Linked DNA regions of Homo sapiens: all the other regions are linked to region 4. Evidence: fine-mapped expression QTL. A gene starts in region 4. Each other region holds a variant in brackets. All regions are shown on one strand. Distances are between the middles of the regions. Region 1 overlaps PYGL (glycogen phosphorylase L). Region 2 overlaps TRIM9 (tripartite motif containing 9). Region 3 has its middle 24 kb from the start of PYGL. Region 4 holds the start of PYGL (glycogen phosphorylase L).

What was found. PIP is the estimated chance that this variant, and not a neighbour inherited with it, causes the effect.
Region 1: its variant is fine-mapped to the expression of PYGL in whole blood (TOPMed, PIP above 0.99).
Region 2: its variant is fine-mapped to the expression of PYGL in cerebellar hemisphere (GTEx, PIP above 0.99). The same link has a PIP of 0.9 or more in cerebellum, cerebral cortex, prefrontal cortex and putamen.
Region 3: its variant is fine-mapped to the expression of PYGL in whole blood (TOPMed, PIP above 0.99).

What each region holds. Positions count from the first base shown.
Region 1 is chr14:50,918,672-50,923,965 of GRCh38, forward strand. PYGL (glycogen phosphorylase L) reads right to left here. Exons shown (of 20, transcript NM_002863.5): 6 at 2,285-2,396; 7 at 1,870-1,952. Among named protein-coding and RNA genes, the nearest start is that of PYGL, 23 kb to the right of the region's middle. The variant G/A (reference allele first, on the strand shown) is at 2,591.
Region 2 is chr14:50,974,464-50,979,757 of GRCh38, forward strand. It overlaps TRIM9 (tripartite motif containing 9), which reads right to left. Exons shown (of 13, transcript NM_001387360.1): 12 at 4,924-5,086; 13 at 803-2,890. The coding sequence ends at 2,828. Among named protein-coding and RNA genes, the nearest start is that of PYGL, 33 kb to the left of the region's middle. The variant C/T (reference allele first, on the strand shown) is at 2,787.
Region 3 is chr14:50,965,580-50,970,873 of GRCh38, forward strand. No RefSeq gene overlaps it. Among named protein-coding and RNA genes, the nearest start is that of PYGL, 24 kb to the left of the region's middle. The variant C/A (reference allele first, on the strand shown) is at 2,402.
Region 4 is chr14:50,941,981-50,947,274 of GRCh38, forward strand. It overlaps PYGL (glycogen phosphorylase L), which reads right to left and starts at 2,503. Exons shown (of 20, transcript NM_002863.5): 1 at 2,181-2,503. The coding sequence starts at 2,423. LOC124903314 (a long non-coding RNA gene) reads right to left here and starts at 610. Exons shown (of 2, transcript XR_007064163.1): 1 at 129-610. LOC400212 (a long non-coding RNA gene) reads right to left here. Exons shown (of 4, transcript NR_170195.1): 4 at 4,310-4,484. RefSeq lists an enhancer at 1,331-1,854 and a silencer at 2,523-2,682.

The DNA of each region.
Region 1 (5,294 bases), 23 kb before region 4:
AGGGATAAAAGACAATTTATTGGGTGTACACTGCTCAGGTGACAGGTGCGTAAAATCTCAGAAATTACCACTAAAGAACTTATCCATGTAACCAAAACTACCTGTACCCCTAAAACTATTAAAATTAAAAATTTTAAAATGATGAGCACCCCATCCCCCAAATGTAAGCCTTGGACCAGAGTCTTATTAAAACTAATGAATATGAGCATAGAGGTCTGCATATAGAATATCTGGGGCTCTGAACTCCCTAATACTTAAAAGTATAATCACTGACCTATGCCAGGGCTATGGCCAAGTTGAGGAGAAGAATGAATTTGTTATTGTAATTACAGTATAAAAGGATTTTTCAGCTTACTCTTAAAAACAAACAAACAAACAAACAAACAAAAACATGATCCTGAGAACTCCCTTTTACCCAACAAATCTAGTCAATTTTTTACCCCATGCTAACTTAGTATATATTGTCAGTTACTGCAGACGATTATTTCCCAGTAAAATTAGTTTTGGTCCTTACTGAAGACAGGAGGATGAATTTCAAGCCCCTGCAGACTGGGTTTAGGTTGGCAGTACGGTCCCAGACTTGGAAGAACTCTTACTTTGACCCTGACATAGAATAACTTTTTGCTTTTGGGTTAGAGATTTCTCTGAAATGTACTGAAGCCACAATGTTTTCCACAAAGGAATAATAGCATATACCATTAGGTTCCTAAAAATGCTCCAGCAAAATCCACATAATCATCTTCCTTTCTGAGAGATTATGATTTAACACCAGGTGGACATCTGGTATTAAGGACTATTTATGTCCTAGTCCCCCCAAGATCCTTGTCTTCTGCCATCTTTGTAAAGCAGAGTGCTAATTTTATTGCTTCTGAGACCACTTTAAAAAAATCATTACAGCTTCATGAAAATGATTTTACCCATAGAGAAGTTTAGAGTTACATATATTTAAAACAACCAAGAATCAATAGCAGTTATCTGAGATCCAGTTCCAAGTGGTGTGTGTGTGTGTGTGTGTGTGTGTGTGTGTTTTGAGAGAGTCTCACTCTGTCACCTAGGCTGGAATGCAGTGGTGCAATCTCGGCTCACTGCAATCTCTGTCTCCCAGGCTCAAGCGATTTTCCTGCCTCAGCCTCTCCAGTAGCTGGGATTACAGGCGCCTACCATCACACCTGGCTAATTTTTTTGTATTTTTAGTAGGGACAGGGTTTCGTCATGTTGGCCAGGCTGGTCTCGAACTTCTGGCCTCAAATGATTTGCCCGCCTCAGACTCCCAAAGTGCTGGGATTACAGGCATGAGCCATTGCACCTGGCCCCAAGTGTTTTTTTTTTTTAACTAAGCTATATTTACAATAAAATTAGAATAATTGACTATAAGAAAAAGATACAAGTCAGTGGCAGAAGAAACAGATGTTTGTTCATGGGTCTGCCCCAGGGTCTCTAACTCCATCTAGCATCAGGGCAGAGGACCAGAAAGAGCCTAGTCAGTGAGAGAAGAGGCGAGGCAGAAAATATTCAGTGACTTCTGACTTTGCAGATAAAATTTCTATCTGGAAAGGAGGCAGTGCTTCACCAGTGATTTACTTCATCTCTTATATCCAGGTTTTGTTTTAAAATACATCTCAATAACTTCCCAATTAGTGATGGGGTCACTAATCAAGGGCAAAATACCAATTCTGATTTCATGCACTATACAGATTTGTTTTCCTTACTTGGTTGGGAGGAGAAATCTACACAATTCAGGAAGAAATACGGAGCTTGTTCTGCACATGGAAAAACATCAATATTAAATGTGTTTTATAGGTTACTGAACAGGCTCTTGTGAAATAAGCTGCCTCTGTTGCCACTAAGAAAGCAACCTTGATCACTCACATTGTCATTGGGATAGAGGACCCGGGAGATGTTCTCGGCCAGGTTTCGGTCCAGCACAGCCTGAATGTAGTCTCCAACATTAACTAGGGGAAAGTTAGAGAAACAATAAATAGAGAAACCAGCCATTGTTGTTGGAAACCTCTTGATCTCACTGGCTCTGTGCTGTGTGTCATGTGGGATTCCTAAAATTCCTAAAAATCCCAAAGGATTTCAACACACCGTCATGCTGGACTTCACATGAGAATTGCTTTAAAAATGCCCTCCCTACTTCCTCCATACAATGCCTGCTTAGTCAGTGAAGTTCAGATCAGAAACTCAAGGCTTTTTTGTTTGTTTCAAGCTCAATTTGGTTCTAACTACCAATCAAAAAGATTAAGCACACGCATAAAGAAACCAAGGCCTGTGCTGTACTCACAGTCTCTGAGGTTAAAGTCATTTGGTGCCCGAGCAGACCAGAGGCGCATGGTGTTGACAGTGTTATTCATGTAGCCGGGCACGGGGGTGTCATATGGCAGAGCCAGGACCACCTGTGGGATTAAACAGAAGCAGCTGCTCATTGTTTCCCAAGTGTGATGACATAGGTTGAACAAGGGGCTGGGAGACTGCAATGGAATTCTATTCCTGGCTCCATTACCAACTTAAATTGTGTGAGGCCTAAATGGAGAAGAGGGTCTCAGGGCTGCAGAGGGTATTAGAGGAACATGTGGTTCCTCCCCGACCT[G/A]GTACAATCTAGTGACTGAAACCATCCACACTGATGGTCCTTTACAGTATTTCTATGTTGACTCTCCATGTGCCCTTGCCCTGATATAAATGCAGTGGAATGGAATGATATGGTATTTGTATTCAAAAAAGTTTATCTTTTTTTTTTTTTGAGACGGAGTCTCACTCTGTTGCCCAGGCTGGAGTGCAGTGGTGCAATCTCGGCTCACTGCAAGTTCACACCATTCTCCTGCCTCAGCCTCCCGAGTAGCTGGGACTACAGGTGCCCGCCACCATGCCCGGCTAATTTTTTTGTATTTTTAGTAGAGACGAGGTTTCACCGTGTTAGCCAGGATGGTTTCGATCTCCTGACCTCGTGATCCATCCACCTCGGCCTCCCAAAGTGCTGGGATTACAGGCGTGAGCCACTGCACCCAGCCAAAAAAGTTTATCTTTCATGTTTCAGATAAAGCCATTGCTCTAATAATAATAAAATATGATATGCAAACAAAGTGACATTGTGAATCTGTACCCACCAAAAAATAGCACTTAGAATATGTTTTGCATAGGTTTTTCAGTGATCTGATTTCAAGTATGATGAAAGTAAATGGAATAGGAAATTTATGAAGCTATAACATCTCATATAATATTTAAAATGCTATGCTAGATTTTTAAAGTTGCATAAGGAGTTATTTTAGTGATTCCTACAGTGATCTGCCAAATCAGCTGATAATTAGCTGAGTTGAGTCTAAGAGGTAAGCTTTGGAAAATCTAGCTTGATCTTTGTGACAGTCACTGAAATAGAGAAGAGGAAGATTAACTATGTTTCACAGTGCATCGAAAATTCAAGTGAGAAATCATTCATTTTTATTCCCGGCCTCATCAGAGTCAAGCTCGAAGGAAGGAGAATGACAGAATAATTGAACTGGAGGATGCTGGATCTCATTTAGTGCAACCCACTTATTTTGGACATGAGGGAGCTGAAGCTGAGAGAGAAGTGACTTGCCCAAGATCACAGTCATGGCAGGATTGAAACTTAAACACGCATCTCTTTAATTTGGTCTGCTGAATTGTGAATGAATGAAGCATTATGGCCCATATCAATCACATATACTCAGTCATACTTTCGTGATCACCGCGACCTCAAAGTAATAAATCACCCTCATTTAAATATCTTTCATTAAGAGATAAAAGTCTCTGGACTTTTAAAGCAAGTTGTAATCAATCAGGGAAAGTCATTTGCAGGCTGGGATTGAGTCTCGGTTCAAACAAGAGTTGGACCCTTCTGACCCTTGAAGCATAATTAAGGCAGCCCAAGAAGTGCACAGCTTAGATCTTCTTTCAGAGAACCTCAAAGAGGACTTGCTCCCTCAGAGCTCACACCAAAGCTGCGCTCTCTGGGACACTCCATGTGGCTGGGACACTAGGGCCGAGACTTCTCTAATGGGCAATCTTTAGTGTCAGGCTCCATCAGCCTGGCCACTTGCTCAGAGTGGCACTGTGGTCTGAGGCTCTCCCTGAGAATGCTGCTTCTTTCCCCTTCACTTTTCACAGGTGGCACACCTGTGTCACAGTCTGAAGCCTTCCCACCTCATCCTGCTCCCTCTCCCCTTTGTCTTTCATAGGCATCCCCCAATATGTCACTTGCACTTCTCATTCTCTCTGGTGTCTGTTTCCTAGAGGACCTAAACTGACACGTGACTGTGTCATTTGACTTTATTGGAAGCCATCCCATGCACGCACAGAGCACATCTGGACTCATGCTCTGACATCACTGGGTACCAGTTTGGGGTTAATTCATGTGATGACTTCAATCTATGAGGCTAAGTTGCATGGCTTGGGCCAGCTCACTTATATTACCTCTGCCCCCTAACCTTGCCTCTGTTGGCCCAGAAACACACACTCTCTCTAATTGAATTTCTGGATACATTATGACAGTATCTAGAGGTGTTTTGTAAATGCAAGTTAGCTCAGCAGTGGGACCCACAGTGTAAATAAAATGCTTCCAGGATTGATTGTGTAAACTGCAAACTTTTATTTTTATTTTATTTTATTTTATTTTTTTTGAGACAGAGTCTCACTCTGTTACCCAGGCTGGAGTGCAGCGACATGATCTCAGCTCACTGCAACCTCCACCTCCTAGGTTCAAGCGATTCTCCTGCCTCAGCCTCCCATGTAGCTGGGACTATAGGCATGGGCCACCACTCCTGGCTAATTTTCGTATTTTTAGTACAGATAGGGATTCACCATGTTGGCCAGGCTGGTCTTGAACTCCTGACCTCAGGTGATCTGCCCGCTTCGGCTTCCCAAAGTGCTGGGATTACAGTTGTGAGCCACTGCACCCAGCCAGGAATGACATTTCAAATTATTCAATTTTGCTATCAACACCTTAATATAAAACCAAAGAGGTAAGCATGCTGGTTACTATAGAACTGACAATTTTCTGGCAAAAAAAAAAAAAAAAAAAAAAGAACTGACAATTTTCTGACAAAGCTGGTTGCAAAATGACCCTTATAAAAGTCACTCCTCTCTTGGCCTCAGCTCCTTTGTCTCCAAAATGACTGGGCTGCGCTAAGAGAAGTAACAGATTTATTTACAAAAATATATTCTATTATTCAAAACACGACATGCCCTATACTCAATATCACCACTATATGCTACATAGTCAATGTATTATCTACTGTACTAAATACTATACAAAACGCTGGCTATACGAGCACTCTGAA
Region 2 (5,294 bases), 32 kb after region 4:
CAGCAGCTACCAACTGTGTACTATTCCACTCTGTGAGGTTATAACTCAGACCATATATTTGTAGGTAATGTTTTTCCTTTAATCAAGAAACAAAGTGTTTTTTTAGTGGCTAACAACAATGTTAGGTAGATGAATAATGTTGTAATTATTGTTTTGCCATTCAAAGAAATGTTAAAGGAGCTAGGTTTGAAAAAGTCAGTGACACTCTGTTTTGCAGTACTATAAAATTGCAAGCCAAATGTGTGGCTTTTTAAAAATAAAGTAGGCCAGGCTCACGCCTGTAATCCCAGCACTTTGGGAGGCCGAGACGGGTGGATCACAAGGTCAAGAGATCAAGACCATCCTGGCCAACATGGTGAAACCCCGTCTCTAATAAAAATACAAAAAAATTAGCTGGGCGTGGTGGTGTGTGCCTGTAGTCCCAGCTACCCGGGAGGCTGAGGCAGGAGAATTGCTTGAACCCAGGAGGGGAGATTGCACTGGGCCAACATTGCGCCACTGCACTCCAGCCTGGTGACAGAGTGAGATTCCGTCTAAAAAAAAAAAAAAAAAACAGAAGTAAATCCCCAATACTTGGAAGCAGACCCCAGACATCTCCACTGGACATTTCACATCAGGTTAAATTTCATATGAGTAAAACCAAAAGGCAGTGCCACATGCCCAAGGAAACAGGGGAAAGAACACATGCTCTCCAGAGCTCTGGGGGCCTTTCCAATGAGATCTTCCTGAAGAAACATCGCTCTGACAAAGGTGAATTGTCATCCGCAATAGATAAAAACTAAGAAATTCTAGAGACATTTTATTCTCTCATAAAAATCATTTATTGGCACATCAGAAATGACAATTTTTTCTAGTATAGTAGTTGTATGCATCTGTAATTGCAATTCAGTGTAAACTACATGTTACAAGTCACTAGAAATCTAATTAGCAGGATGAATTTAATAAAGAACAAGAGGAACTATGAGTCTACCACGGCCCAGCCATTGAGTCTCATTGGAGAGTAAATCAAATATCAAACTAGTGTTGCCCTGCAACAGTTTTTCTGTAGCCAAGAAAAACCAAGACACACATAAACAGGATAGCACCCATTCCATAAATTAGGTACACTTAACTAGAAAAAGATTGTAACTGATAGAAATAATCTAAATAAAGTAAGCACAAAAGTAAATAATTAGCTATTTACATATATTCCTTTTTGCCAAAACTTTAATTTGTTAGCTTTCCCATCCTATCTCTTCCCTTCTATTTGTTATTCTTGTTTTTTCATGGTGAATTTCTTGGCTCACTGAAAAATATTTAGACAACTAATTAGAACTTCTTTCCGGGTCCTACCTTTCCTAAAACTTTATGACAAACTAATGAATTTCAAGGGTAACCTATGTAAGTCTATCTCTATATAGAAGTAAGATGCATTATTATTCTGCTATCAGTCATAGTAATGACATACAGTCCCATGTTTTTCCAAACATTGTTTGGACTACTCCAGAAAATTAGGCTGTGAATGGCAGCAGAGTGGATGGATTTTTCATTCATAACAGGCACAGATAGTATATATGGAGACAAGCATGTTTATCCTGAGAATGTGAATGCTGTGGACTGCAACTCAAGATCTCCCATTACTGAGAATGGGTCCTTTGCCCTCTGGTCACTCTTTTTTTTTTCAACTGTCAATTTTTAAGGCGTGGTATCATAGCAGCATCAGCAAATAAGAATGCTGACATCATTTCTACCAAGAAGGGCTCTGTGATGAGTGGCAGCAGGTACCATAATTAAATAGTGCAGCTGAAAAGGCATTGAGTTGGTACATTTCTGGTGCTATGGCCAGAATGTGTGGATTTTTAGCATCATTCTAGGAAGCCTGAAAGATCTTGCCCATGAGTCTCTTTGACCCTTGCCCATTTCCTTTCTAGTACATATGACCATTTATAATTATTTTATTTTTGCTTTTTCTCCTACTGGAATATAAGCTCCGAAGGGCAGAGACCATGCCTGTCTGTTCACCACTGTGTCCCCACAGTGTCTAGAACATAATGTTCTAGTGTCTTGAACAGTGCCTGGTCAATAGTAGGTTCTCAATTAAAAGCTTTTATTAAATAAACGAACCAAATCATTAAGTCCCCTGGTTTGCCTGTGTCTTAGAGACTTTCCAATTTTATACAGTGGCCAGGGTTCTGGCCTATCCTAATTATAGAGCCATCCTAACGATCCTACCCTGATGTGAACCTGTGTAGCGGATATTTTTGTGCTTCAATGAGTAGTAAAACTTCTCAGTGATAGATTCATTCTCCCAAAGCTTAGCTCTGCAGAGCTAACGCTACAGGAGAGGTAAGAGGGTAAGAACATTCTAGCAGGTAAGCTGTATGCTACAAATTCAGCTCATTCTTCCCTACCTCCCCCTACAACCTCATTGTTTGACAGAAAGCTTAAGAAAAAAAGTTAGCAGGAGAATTTTCTCCTGGCGGTGCCAGTCCAGTAAGTCACCAATAACCTGATCAGAAAAGAAAGAAAATATAACTCACCTACATAAAAAATTAAGTTAAATAAAAGCAAAATCTGGGAGTGGGAACCAAGTGACTTGGTGGGCTGTCTAGGTCCTTTGTTGGTTAGAATTGTTGGACATGGAAGCGGAAGCAGGCATGACAGCGGAGGAGAGGTTGAAAGGGAAAAGGGCAGAGCTGTGGGTGTAAAGACTGCAGAGGACCAGCTTTTCTCTCCTCCTTCTCCCACTCCTGCCAACTCTGCACCCCACCACGGCTGGCTGAGCTCCTTGCTGTGGCTCTCGCAGG[C/T]GGAGGTAAGAACAGGCAGCTGGCGCCTCCACGGCACATCCTTAGGCTATTGATGCTCTGCTGGAGTAGAAGTCGGGGACTGGGAGCCCGGTGTGCAGCGTGACCTGGGGAATGAGACTGTGAGTCCTGAGAGGCATCGTGCATCCCCCTGTCCCTTTACACAGTGTACCGTGGGTGTGTCCCTAACTCAAAAAGTGTTCTGTTTGCTTCGCTTTAAACATCTAGGCTAGCAGGCATTAAACGGAATTCAAGAAGAATCCTGCCTATGGTAACAGGCTGCTCACCATGGTGGGCTCTCAAATCCTGGTGACATTTGATTATATGGTTCTTAGTCACCTGCCTCTTTTAAAGGATTCCGGGGAGATTGTGTTCCTTATAACTGAAGACACAGGCCTTGGTTTTCAGATAGAGGAGCCTACTGGCCACACCACAGTGACCACTGCCAAATCCATGGATAGAGGACAGATTCGCAGAGACAGCACTTCCCTTATTACTTGTCCACTAGTTATTGTAATTAGGGCAAACATTTCTTTCTGGGGTCGCATAGATGATTGCCAGTTGTGAAAAAACATGGCATTATACTATTTTACCAATTTCCGTGTATCCCCAAACCTCAATGGATAGCTATGGATAAAACTAGAACCATTTCATGCAGTTCTTATCCCTGTCTTCTCCAGCCCAAGAGTCTTTATCAATAGATAATCAGAAGGTCCTGAAAACCCCTGAAGAGCATCTAGTATAATATTCTTTGAAAGGGAAATGGCTAATGTGAAAAACCTTGAATGGGGTTTTTCTGAGACTCGCTTCTAGGGTAATTTATGGTTTTCTTTCTTAAAGTGTAGAGGCTGAACTCTGAAAGATTAGATTCCAGCCTTCTAGAAAACCCCATCTCCTTGCAGGGAGAAGGGCAGGGGCTGCTAGTTTGCAATCAATGTTACTGCACATACTGAAACACAACAATGAATTTTGATAAATAGTTTCCAAGGCTGGTTCTGGATAGGGCAAAAGTCACCTGTAATTCTCAAGCCTTATCTCAAGACAACCATTTGTGGAATGAGGCTCATAGTTGTTAATGAGATGCCCAGCTCAGGAGGGAAGTGAAACCCTAAGTCCTGACAGCGGCTGGCAGGGCACAGCTCTTCCCCCATGCATGGCTCTGGTCCCCCTTCCAGGCCCCAGCCCAAGAGTCTCTCCACCATTCCTTGCCCATGCAAGGCCCCTCATGCCTTAGAAACTGTGCACAGGCTGTTCCCTCTGTCTGGAAGGCTCCACGCAACTCACTCCCTCACTCCTTTAAGGCTCAGCTCACCGGTAACTGCGATAAGCCCTACCTACGCAATACTGTGGCTGCCCTTCCCAACCACACCACTCATGGGCCCTTGGTCTTTTCTCCACTGCACTAAACACCTTCTGACACACCATCTGATTAACATTGTAATTATGCTTATTATTTATTGTCTGTCTCCTATCACTAAGATGTAAGTTCTATGAAGGCAAGATTTTTATCTGTTTTTTTGTTTTTTTTTTTCACTGATGTATCCCAGACACTTATAACTGTGCCTGGCACATTAAAGGCATTCTATAGATATTTGCTGAATGAATAAATGAGAAGCTGTTGTTTTATTCTATAATAAATAATAATTGACTAAGTTGTAGGTAGGGACTATGTTTTCTACCCCTTAGGACCTAACAGAGCCAAACAAGAGTGCAGAGAAGATGCTCAGATTTTCTGATAATGATACTAATGCTTCAGTCTTACACCCTCACCTCTTCTCAGGCACTCCTGAGCTTTGTTAAGTCATTCTATTTGTTTTCATGCCAGTTGGTTAAAGGCTTTCGTTTCTATTTAGAGGTGAAACTAGAGCTACAGAGATGATCATTAGCCAACCATGAAGAGAATTCTAGTTTCCTATGTGCTATTAACTAGTCTGCGTCCAAGTATAAAGAAGGTGCTTATGCTTGGCGTGGAATAAAATAAGTTGCCAGTGCTGATCCCTTTCTCTCCTCCTCTCCTTCATATCTTGGTCTGGGCCTTACGCTGTCAGCTTCCCTCTCTTCGGTTGGATTGAACGGCCCTGGGCAGCCTTTGAACCGGTAGCCAGCAACAGCTGTTTAACCTCAGGGGCAGGGTGCTTACCTGCACGTTCCTGTTCAGGCTGACCGCAGGGAAGAAGAGGCCCTCCACGTTATCAAATGCTATGGGACCTTGTTGTTCATCGTTGATAAAAAATGTCAAGTTTTTTCTATTTAAGTCGAGGAGGACCCCAATTGTGGCCCCTTTTGTGATCCCTCCCTCAGTTCTGTAGGAAAAGAGAAAAATTGGGGTTCATTTCCTTGTGGTCACTCTAGAAGCTCCCCCCTTTTGTGTGGTGAAACCAGTGTCTTGCAACCTGTTTATAATCATCACTACCCCAAAACCGTTTCCCTAATCATCCCTTGCACATAAATTTTAATACCGCAGATATACTGTATACCTGTTGGTACTGTGTGTATATCTGTGTTTTATAC
Region 3 (5,294 bases), 24 kb after region 4:
GCCAAAGATTCCTATCTGGCACACCTGCCTGGCAGGGCCTCCCTGCAGTGGTCCCTCAGTGTCTGCGGGGGCATTGGTTCCAGGACCTCCCTGAGATACTGAAATTCACAGATACTCAAGTCCCTGATATAAAATGGTGTAGCATTTTCATATAACCTCAGCAGGCTGGGCTCTCCACCCTCCTTCCTCTCACTGCATGCACCTCACCCTCACTAACTCTTTGACTTACTGGGCTTGTTCCCGCCTCAAGGCCTTTACCCCTTCCCTTGGTCTTGGCTTCTTCAACCCAAATATAACCCCTTCAGAGAGGTAATTGCTGACTTTTCCATATCTCTCTATCTCATAGCCTGTTGGATTTCCTGTGTTGTATTTATTAAGACTTAAAATGATTTTGATCTTTACTTATTATTTCCCTATTTGAATATCAGCTCTAAGAACGTAGGGACCTTGTCTATTTTATTCACTGGTATTCCCAGTAATAGCATTGTTACAACAGCATTTATCACTTAATAGGTGCTCATTAAATATTAATCGTATGAATGAGTGTGTTGTCTGTGGTACATCCTATGTGTAGCAATCATATGTCATATAACCTACAGGTTAAGAGCCTGTGTCTTGGAGTCAGACTATTTGGGTTCAAACCCTGGCTGTCATACTTGTATACTGTGTGACTTTGGGCAAGTTGCTTAACCTCTTGTGCTTCAGTTTCTTCATTTCTAAAATGGTAATAATAAAAATGCATAAGTAAGATGAAGGGTAAGTAAGATGATTCACTAAAAGCCCTTGGTACATTGCCTGGAAAACAATAAGATTCAATATTTGGCAACTTACATTATTAGAGCACGGTTGTCTCTCCATATCCGTGAAGCCTTGGTTTCAGGACACCCCTGGGATACCAAAATTCACAGATAGTTAAGTCTCTGATATAAAATGGTGTAGCATTTGCATGTAACATATGCAAATCCTCCTATATACTTTAAATCTCTAGATTACTTATAATACCTAATGCAATGTAAATGCTTTGTAAATAGTTGTTATGCTGTATTCCTTTTATTTGTATTATTTTTCTTGTTTTTTTAATTTCCTTCCCAGCATTTTCAACCCAAGCTTGTTTCAATGCACCCATGTGGAACCTGCGGATATGATGAGTGATTGGATTTCTCAATTGTAAGAAGTTCTAGTTAGAGATTGTATGATGCACTACTGGCTTAATAGTAGCTCTTTTGGCCGGGCATGGTGGCTCACGCCTGTAATCCCAGAACTTTGGGAGACCGAGGCAGGCGGATCACCTGAGGTCAAGAGTTCAAGACCAGCCTGGCCAACATGGTGAAACCCCGTCTCTACTAAAAATACAAAAATTAGCCTGGCATGGTGGCGTGTGCCTGTAGTCCCAGCTACTCAGGAGGCTGAGGCAGGATAATTGCTTGGACCCGGGAGGTGGAGGTTGCAGTGAGCCAAGATCGCACCACTGCACTTCAGCCTGGGCAATAAGAGTGAAACTCTGTCTCAAAAAAAAAAAAAAAAAAAAATGGAACTGTTTTGGAGAAAACCAAAGCCAAGTTCAACATTTAATATATACCACTTGGGAAAACTCTACTTACAATAGCATGCATTATCTGCCACAATACATGCTACTTTGCTCTTCAGACTAACAAACACAATTCGGTCCCCAAGTACCTCTGTATCAAGCAGGGCCACTGGCAGTTATACGTAATGTAATGATTACCCTTGCACGAGATCTGGACCTTGCTAGCATATTTGTGAGGCTGCAGAATAATTTAAAGAATGCAGTGGGATTATGTGTGTGTTTTTTTCTTTCTTTCTTTTCTTTTTTTTTTTTTTTTTGCATTTCTCTTTTGGCTATTTTGTTTGTATTGCTACTGTTAACTGAATTATAAATAATAGGAAATAAAGAGCTTCTGGGAAGTAGCTGGAAGCTTTTGACAGATTTAGACATCTGAATGATAGCTCTTCACATATCAGTTGGTCCCAAAAACTTTTCCTAGATTTCAAAAATTTGTGATTTGTTCTCAGCATCTTGACAATTTTATTAATTATATTATCCAGTGTATGACTATTTCAATTGTATATTATCCAGTGAATGATTATTAATTTTATGCATGTACAATATATTTTTTCATTTCTATACTGCATTATAATGGGATCTTTTAAAAGACCTTTTAAGTGATAATTAAGATGTGAATTTAAGTTTATCAACTTTCAAAGGAAATAACAAGTAACAGAATGATGAAATTGTTAGCTGGTGTAATGCCTCTGTGACATAGCTGAATTTCTGCTCTGCCCTAACACTGCTTTAAGAAACAGGATGCCTGCAATAAAAAGTTCCCTTTGTAACCGGAACAGTTGAGACTGGTTAGAACCAAAATAGCTGAGCAAATGA[C/A]TTCAGAAAGAACTCGGGCTTCATTATAATCTCATTTCCATGCTAAATGACACTCTGACCATCACCATAACAGTGGACAATTGCTAGGACAATGACCAGAAGAAGCTATAAAAGGACAAAAAAGGAGGAAGGCATCACTCCAGTTCTGGGAAGTTCACTGACCCTTTCCAGAAAAGACCTGAGTCTTCCTCTTTTCATTTTCCTTTCTTTTTTTTTTTGAGACAGAGTCTTGCTCTGTTACCCAGGCTGGAGTGCAGTGGTGCCATCTGGGCTCCCTGCAACCTCCGCCTCCCAGGTTCAAGTGATTCTTCTACCTCAGCCTCCCAAGTAGCTGGGATTACAGGTGCGTGCCACCACACCCAGCTAATTTTTGTGTTTTTAGTAGAGAAGGGGTTTCACCATATTGGCCAGGCTGGTCTTGAACTCCTGACCTCGTGATCCATCCACCTTGGCCTCCCAAAGTGCTGGGATTACAGGTGTGAGCCACCGTGCCCGGCCCCTCTTTTCATTTTTAATGTCCATCCTCTTCGTTAGAGAAACTCTTTATTTGCACCCCTCACCCCTCACTGGTCAAGAAGTTGATTTGTGAGCCATGCTTCCACTTCTTAATTCCATGGCCATTGAATAAAGCCTGCTCTACTTGACAATTTTAGTTTTGTGTATTGGCTTCATGACACTGAACATGGAAAGACTTCATGTTTTGAGGGATCCACTTTGTTGGTTATAAGATGATGCCCCCCATCTTATTGTTTTTCCAAATGTGTAGGCAATAAAAACTTTGCTGAGTATACACTACCCACTCATTCCTTACCTCTGGGCTGTCAGCTCTAGACACACATTAGAATCACCTTACAAATTCCAGATTCTCAGGCTGCATCTTAGACCAACTAAATTAGTAACCTGGCATCAGTATTCTTTCTTTCTTTATTTTTTTTTGAGACGGAATCTCGCTCTGTCGTCTAGGCTGGAGTGCGGTGGCGCGATCTCGGCTCACTGCAAGCTCCGCCTCCCGGGTTCACGCCATTCTCCTGCCTCAGCCTCCGGAGTAGCTGGGACTACAGGTGCCCGCCACCACGCCCGGCTAATTTTTTTTGTATTTTTAGTAGAGACAGGGTTTCACTGTGTTAGCCAGGATGGTCTCGATCTCCTGACCTCGTGATCCGCCCTCCTCGGCCTCCCAAAGTGCTGGGATAACAGGCGTGAGCCACCGCACCCGGCAGCATCAGTATTCTTAAAGTTCCCCAGATGATTTCAGTGTGCAGTGGAGGCTGAGAACCACCACTCTATCAATGGCTGAAGAGTGTCTTTCTTTCTTTTTTTTTTTTTCTGCGACAGAGTCTCGCTTTGTCACCAGGCTGGAGTGCAGTGGCACAATCTCAGCTCACTGCAATCTCCACCTCCCGGATTCAAGCGATTCTCCCGCCTCAGCCTTCTGAGTAGCTGGGATTACAGGCATGCACCATCACACTCGGCTAATTTTTGTATTTTTAGTAGAGACGGGGGGTTTCACCATGTTGGCTAGGCTGGTCTCGAACTCCTGACCTCAAGTGATCCACCCGCCTTGGCCTCCCAAAGTGCTGAGATTACAGGCGTGAGCCACCACCGCTCCCAGCCTAAAGAGTTTCTTTTGACATGTGTTGTAAGATGTGTCTTGATTTGAGAGATGTTAAGGTGTAAAAAACAAAACAAAAAAACCAGCTGGGTCTGGTGGTTCACGCCTTTAATCCCAGCATTTTGGAAGCCCGAGGCAGGAAGATCCCTTGAGACCAGGAGTTCAAGACCAGACTGGGCAACATAGCAAGATTCCATCCCTACAAAAAATTTTAAAATTAGCCAGTAGTGGTGGTATGTGCCTGTAGTCCCAGCTGCTCAAGAGGCTGAGTCAGGAGGATCCCTTGAGCCCAGAAGTTTGAGGCTGCAGTGAACTATGATCATGCCACTGCGTGCCAACCTGAGTGACAATGTGAGACCTTGTCTCTCAAAACAGAAACACAAAACACAACCCTTGCATCTGAGAAATAAGAAAATTGTAATTGCTATTATTAGTCTAGCCCTAGAAGGATTCAGACCATGAAAAATATCATATTGGGTCAGATCAATTTTGTGGGACAACTGATGTTCCTTAGTTGTTCTCCTTTTACAGTGTCTTTGACATTGTTTACTAGGAGTGCACCCCATGTATTATAAAGCTTCCTTTGGTTACTGCCAGACACCTGGCAAGAGCTTAGAAATGAAGCTTGATGCATAAAGGAAAAAAAAAAGGAAAAAAGGGAAACAAAACAAAAAGCATGGTGTGTGATGCGTGTGAATCTCCTGGTCACTGGGTGCACCCTTGTATCCTGTACTCTTTTGGGCCCCTGATTTCACATCCCAACTCCCCTTGGAGTTTGAGGTCAGCCTGACCAACATGGAGAAAACCCGTCCCTACTAAAAATGCAAAATTAGCTGGGCTTGGTGGCACATGCCTGTAGTCCCAGCTACTTGGGAGGCTGAAGCAGGAGAATCGCTTGAACCTGGGAGACAGAGGTTGCGGTGAACCGAGATCATGCCATTACACTCCAGCCTGGGCAACAAGAGCGAAACTGCGTCTCAAAAAAAAAAAATAGACTCAGTGTTTCATCTGATTCCTTGGGATTCTCGCTTTCCCCATCCCTAAGGCAAGGAGAGCAGATGCTCAGATTCTCTTAATATCAAAGCAAAGTGTCCCCTTAGCTAGGATGATAGCTAGCTTAGCCTCAGCATATGTGTTAATTCTTGGTCTGACTTGAAATCTTGAAGATGTGGAATTTGATAGTGGCATGGAGGTTTGGCTGGACCTCAGAAATTTTAAAGACTGAGTGATTTCTTTCCTATAAAGAAATTTGTGGTTTTCTGCTGGTGTATCAGGTCTTAA
Region 4 (5,294 bases):
TCACTAAACACTCAGAAATGTACGCATAGAGTTAGAAAAGGAATTCAGACTAGGGATCCATATTTGGGATTCATCTGCACAGTTATTGGAGAGCAAGGGAGGTGGGAGAGGAGCTTGGACACACCTACTTGCTCTACTTTATGAGGGCAGGAACCATCCTGTTTAGACAGACGACTGTGATGGAGTAGATATTTGATGAACACGTGTGGAATGAAACATGTTCATTGTTGTATCCCCAGTGTATCGCTATCAGAATTTACACACGTCGGAATTCCTGGCTTATATCTGCACTCACGTAGAAAAGGAGAGCCCAGTGAAGAAACTGGCCGGAGAACCAGGAAAACCATAAAGCACTGCATAAGCCACTGAAGGAAAAACATACAAGATTCTCTGGTGCTCTATGATGCTAAATGCTACAGAGGCGTGAGTGTGTGTTTCTAATATATGCTCAGTGTCCCACCCTTCCGCTTAAAATTGTTAAAAATAATTTTTAATGAGAGGCGCAGTATGGTGTACTTAGTAGCATTCCCTTTGTGTAAATAAATTTTTAAAAGATAGTGGCCGAGTGTGGTGGCTCACACCTGTAATCCCAGCACTTTGGGAGGCCAAGGAAGGAGGATCATTTGAGGCCAGGAGTTTGAGAGCAGCCTGGCCAACATGGTGAAACCTTGTCTCTACTAAAAATACAAACTTAGCCAGGTGTAGTGGTAGGAGCCTGTAGTCCCAGCTACTCGAGAGTCTGAGGCAGGAGAATCGCTTCAACCCTGGAGGCGAAGGATGCAGTGAGCCAAGATGGCGCCGCTGCACTTCATTCAGCCTGGGCGAGAGTGAGACTCTGTCTCAAACAAAACAAAACAAAACAAAACAAAACAAAACAACAAAACAGTAAATATATGTATACATAAAGTGTTTTCTAAGGTGCATTTAAATTTTTAAGGATACATTTTAGCAGTTGCTACCTTGGTGGAGGCCTAGGTCTTTGGGGTGAAGAAGAGTTACTTTCCATTTGAAAACTGTTACAGTTGCAATTTCTTACTATGAGAATTTACATTCATTTCCTTTCTTAAAAATTCCTATGGGGTTTCTTGGGCACTGGGATTATAGACCATTTTTTTTTCTTCACACCTTTACATAATTAAAAAGTTCTAATAAATGTTTATATATATTTCCCACTGCCCCTGGGATGTATCCCAATCTTTTATTCTTTCCAATATGTCTCTACCTGGCTTCTCCAGTTTCCTCTCCCAATACAGACTCACACCCGCCCTCACTCCAGCCTGCACACAATCCCTCTCCCTGCCATGTCCTCCCCAGTCCTTCCCCACTGCCTCTCGCCCTCTTCGCAAACTGTCAGGCAGAGATATTGTCCCTCTGTAGGTCCAAAATCACCCTAAGGAGGTCTCTGCTCCCGCCCCCACGCCGTGGATGGAGGTGGTCCCTGACCAGCCTTCCTCAGCAGCTCTGGGGGCAGGCCTCGGGTGTGGAAGGGCTAAGGGTCGGGGGAGTGTGTGTCTTCGGGGAGGACGAGTCCAGGGCATTGCCTGGCCCTGGGCCGCCTTTGCGAAAGACTCACGGAATTCCAGGAGCTACACCCACTCAGGAGAATGGGTGGGCGGCGCTCTACGCTTGGAGCGGGACCCTGCCCCTCCTCTGCACCACACTTAGCCACTCCCAGAGGCCTGAGACTTACGACCTTTTCCCAGCTCGGCGTTTGTCTCCCCTCCCAAAATACCAAGCTCCAGCAAGGCAAGATTTTTGTCCCTTTTGTTTAGGGCTGAGTGTCCAGGGCAGAGAATAGTGTCCGGCATACAGGACAAGAGGCCCCCGTCACCTCTTGATTAAATGCTGAGAGTCAAAGTTCCAAAAAAGTTTGTGAAGTGGACAGGCGAGAGGGGCCTGGGCTTTTGCCCACCTGGCGGTTTCCAGGGGCGGACGGCACAGTGGTTTGGGCGGGACACTGGCGGGTGGCACCTCGGAGACATGAGTTCGGCGTCTGTTGGGAGGCCTAATCTGTCCCCCAGGCTGCCCGCCCACAGCCTAGACACGTCTCCTCTGGACTTCGGGGCAAGGACCGGGTGCAAGGGACCACTCTGAGGGGTTCTCCACCTCGTCCCGCCCGGCCGCGGCCGGAGACTCCGACTCCGGGCTGGACCCCGGCCCGCCGTCCCGCCCCCGGTTACCTTGGGGCACTTGTCGTAGTAGTGCTGCTGCGTGCGGATCCAGCGCCCCACCAGGTGGTCGCGCACCGTGTGCGCCAGCGCGAAGTAGTAGTCGCGGGTGGTGGCCACGTTGCGGTCCTTGACCAGCGTGAAGTGCAGGTGCCGGTTGAAACTCTTCTTCAGCTCTGCCACGTTCTCCACGCCCACGATGCCGCGGATGCTGATCTGCCGCCGCTTCTCCTGGTCCGTCAGGGGCTTCGCCATGGCTGGGGCGGCGGGCTGCGCGGCGGGCTGCGCAGAGAGCTGGAAGTGCGGCCGGAGGCGCTGGGCTGCCGGGCAGGGGTGGAGTCCGCCCCGCCGCGCCAGCAGCTTTCAACGCGCACGAAAGTTTGGGGCCCGCCCCCTCGGGCGGTGCCGTCCCCGCTGCACTCCCACCGCGTCCCGGCCCCTGCCCCAGGCCGGAGGGCAGAGGAAGTGCCCGGCCCCTCCCGAGGCTCTGGGGCCGCAGTGGGCTCGGGGGTGGGAGACGAGGTCCAAGCGCCGGCGAGACCCCTGCCAGCCCGGGACCTGGGCTCGGAGGCTCCCTTCCGGATTTCCAAAATCTGCGGAGGCAGCATTTGTTCCGCCTCTCCCCTCTAGAGTGTGGAGACAGGAGGACGTCTGTGTAGGGAAGCACGTCGTTGGCAGACTGCTGTTTTGCCGATGTTTATTTGTTATGCCATTATGACTGTTAGGATTTCTCACCTGGAGTGGCTTCCGCCATAAGCGCCGGGATCTGGAAGGACGGCACGTTTGACTTCTGTTGTCCCAACCTCACTTGCCAGCCCTTGGCACCGCCCCAGCTTGGATCCTCAGGGCGCCTCTGTTATTTTCATTCATTTTTTTTGAGGACTCCAGGGTTCAGGTTTCTTAACTCCTGGACCAAAGTTCGCCCCGCTCGTAGCACCCTGTCTCTCATCCTTAGAGGTAGGTTACTAAGAATCAGAGTAGGTGAGGTGAAGCTCTAGGGTCATTATGCGGCAGGGGCTTTTACCTTAGGCTTCTTCGAATTACGTTTTAACTGCAGTGGAGGGTGTGGGGGGAGGAGAGGGAGAAAACAGAAGGGTATGTGTGTGGAAAATGAAGGGATTACTCACTGGACTAGTTGCCTTCTTTACAAAAAACAACCCAGTCTGTGTTACTGTGCGGTACAGGCTGATCTTTGCACCTCCACTTTGGGTGGTATTTGAATATGCGTGTTTATGTGTGCTTAAACCTTGGTAAAGGCAAACACTTGGCATTTTAGGATGTCAGAGGTTTTTTCTTCCTCATTAAGTAGTATTAATATATTATTTTAGAAACAGTCCATTGCCAGAATTAAGTTTTCTTTTTCCTTTTTCTTTTCTTTTTCTTTCTTCTTCTTCTTTTTTTTTTTTTTTTGAGACGGAGTCTCACTCTGTTGCCCAGGCTGGAGTGCAGTGGCGCGATCTCGGCTCACTGCAAGCTCCGCCTCCCGGGTTCACGCCATTCTCCTGCTTCAGCCTCCTGAATAGCTGGGACTACAGGCGCCCGCCACCTCGCATTTTTTATTTTTTATTTTTTTATTTTTAGTAGAGACAGGGTTTCACCATGTTAGCCAGGATGGTCTCTATCTCCTGACCTCGTGATCTGCCCGCCTCGGCCTCCCAAAGGGCTGGGATTACAGGCGTGAGCCACCGCGCCCGGCCAATAGTCACATATATTCTTCTAAGTTTATTTGTTTGTTGTTTTTTGAGACAGGGTCTCACTCTGTTACCCAGGCAGAGTGCAGTGGCGCGATCTGGGCTCACTGCAAGCTCCGCCTCCCGGGTTCACGCCATTCTCCCGCCTCAGCCTCCCGAGTAGCTGGGACTACAGGCGCCCGCCACCACGCCCGGCTAATTTTTTGTATTTTTAGTACAGATGGGGTTTCACCGTGTTAGCCAGGATGGTCTCGATCTCCTGACCTTGTGATCCGCCCTCCTCGGTCTCCCAAAGTGCTGGGATTACAGGCGTGAGCCACCGCGCCCGGCCAAGTTTTCTAGAAAAATCTTAGTATACTTATATTAATATATTTTGTTTTTTATAATAAACCCAAGTTGATTATTTTGAATTCACACATGGTGGTGGTGGGGGGGGGGGGGGGGGCGGGTAATGGATTAATTGATTCAGACCAAATGTGACCCTCACCATAAAAGTGAAAGTTCAAAGCTCATAGTTCTGACAAAATTTCCTGAATCCTTGTCCTCCCAGATTCTGAAGTTTGGACTTGAGCTTTTGGGGCAGAGACTGAATTGGGCCTTATGCAACTCTTGCAATACCGATGACCTGCAAAGGACAGTATGGAAGAGATGAGCATTAGAGTTTGGATCCGGATGGGGCCAGAAATACCCTGAATTAAGAGTGGGAAGGGGGGGCCCATCAAAATCATTGATCTTAAAAATAAGTAAGGCCTGTGGGGTGAAATTTGAAATAAAGCAGAAAGATAAGCTTCTTTGATTATTATATAACTTAAAAAAGTGTTTATCAGCTTTGAATACCCCCAAGATGGTCACAGCATTAAGCCAGTTATGGGTCATTCGTACATAAGTGTGAAATTAGTCACTCAGCTTTAACAGCTGGATGAAAAATAGGGTAGAGCCTAGGATGAGGGAATACCAGGTCTGAGTAGGTCTTCCTCCCAGAAAGGTCTCTGAGCAGGAGAAGGCATCATAATGTCTGGGCATTGGGGAGTGAATAATTAGGGGGCACACAAGAAGGGATGAAAGACACCAAAAGCAAGCTTACTCGGTTTCTTAGTTTTGCTTAAGACAGTTTCAAATAGATGGCTCCCAGCTCCGCTGTCTACTTTCCTGTACTAAATTCTTGTTGGAAACTCAGGGTAATGATGAACTAATGAACACACTATTTTCTTGATTCACTATCCAGTCGGTGAGCCTGCACCCCCGGCTTGAACAATTCTCTATGCAGAAAAATCATGAACTATAGAATGCTCAATATATAGAGTATGGGGAAAAACTATCCATCTCCATGTTAAAAAGAACGTGATGGAACCAGGTGATTTAGGGTGTTCCATAGACCCAGTCTTAAACGACAATGAATTACATTGCAAGACAGTTATTCCCCTTTCACTTTTCT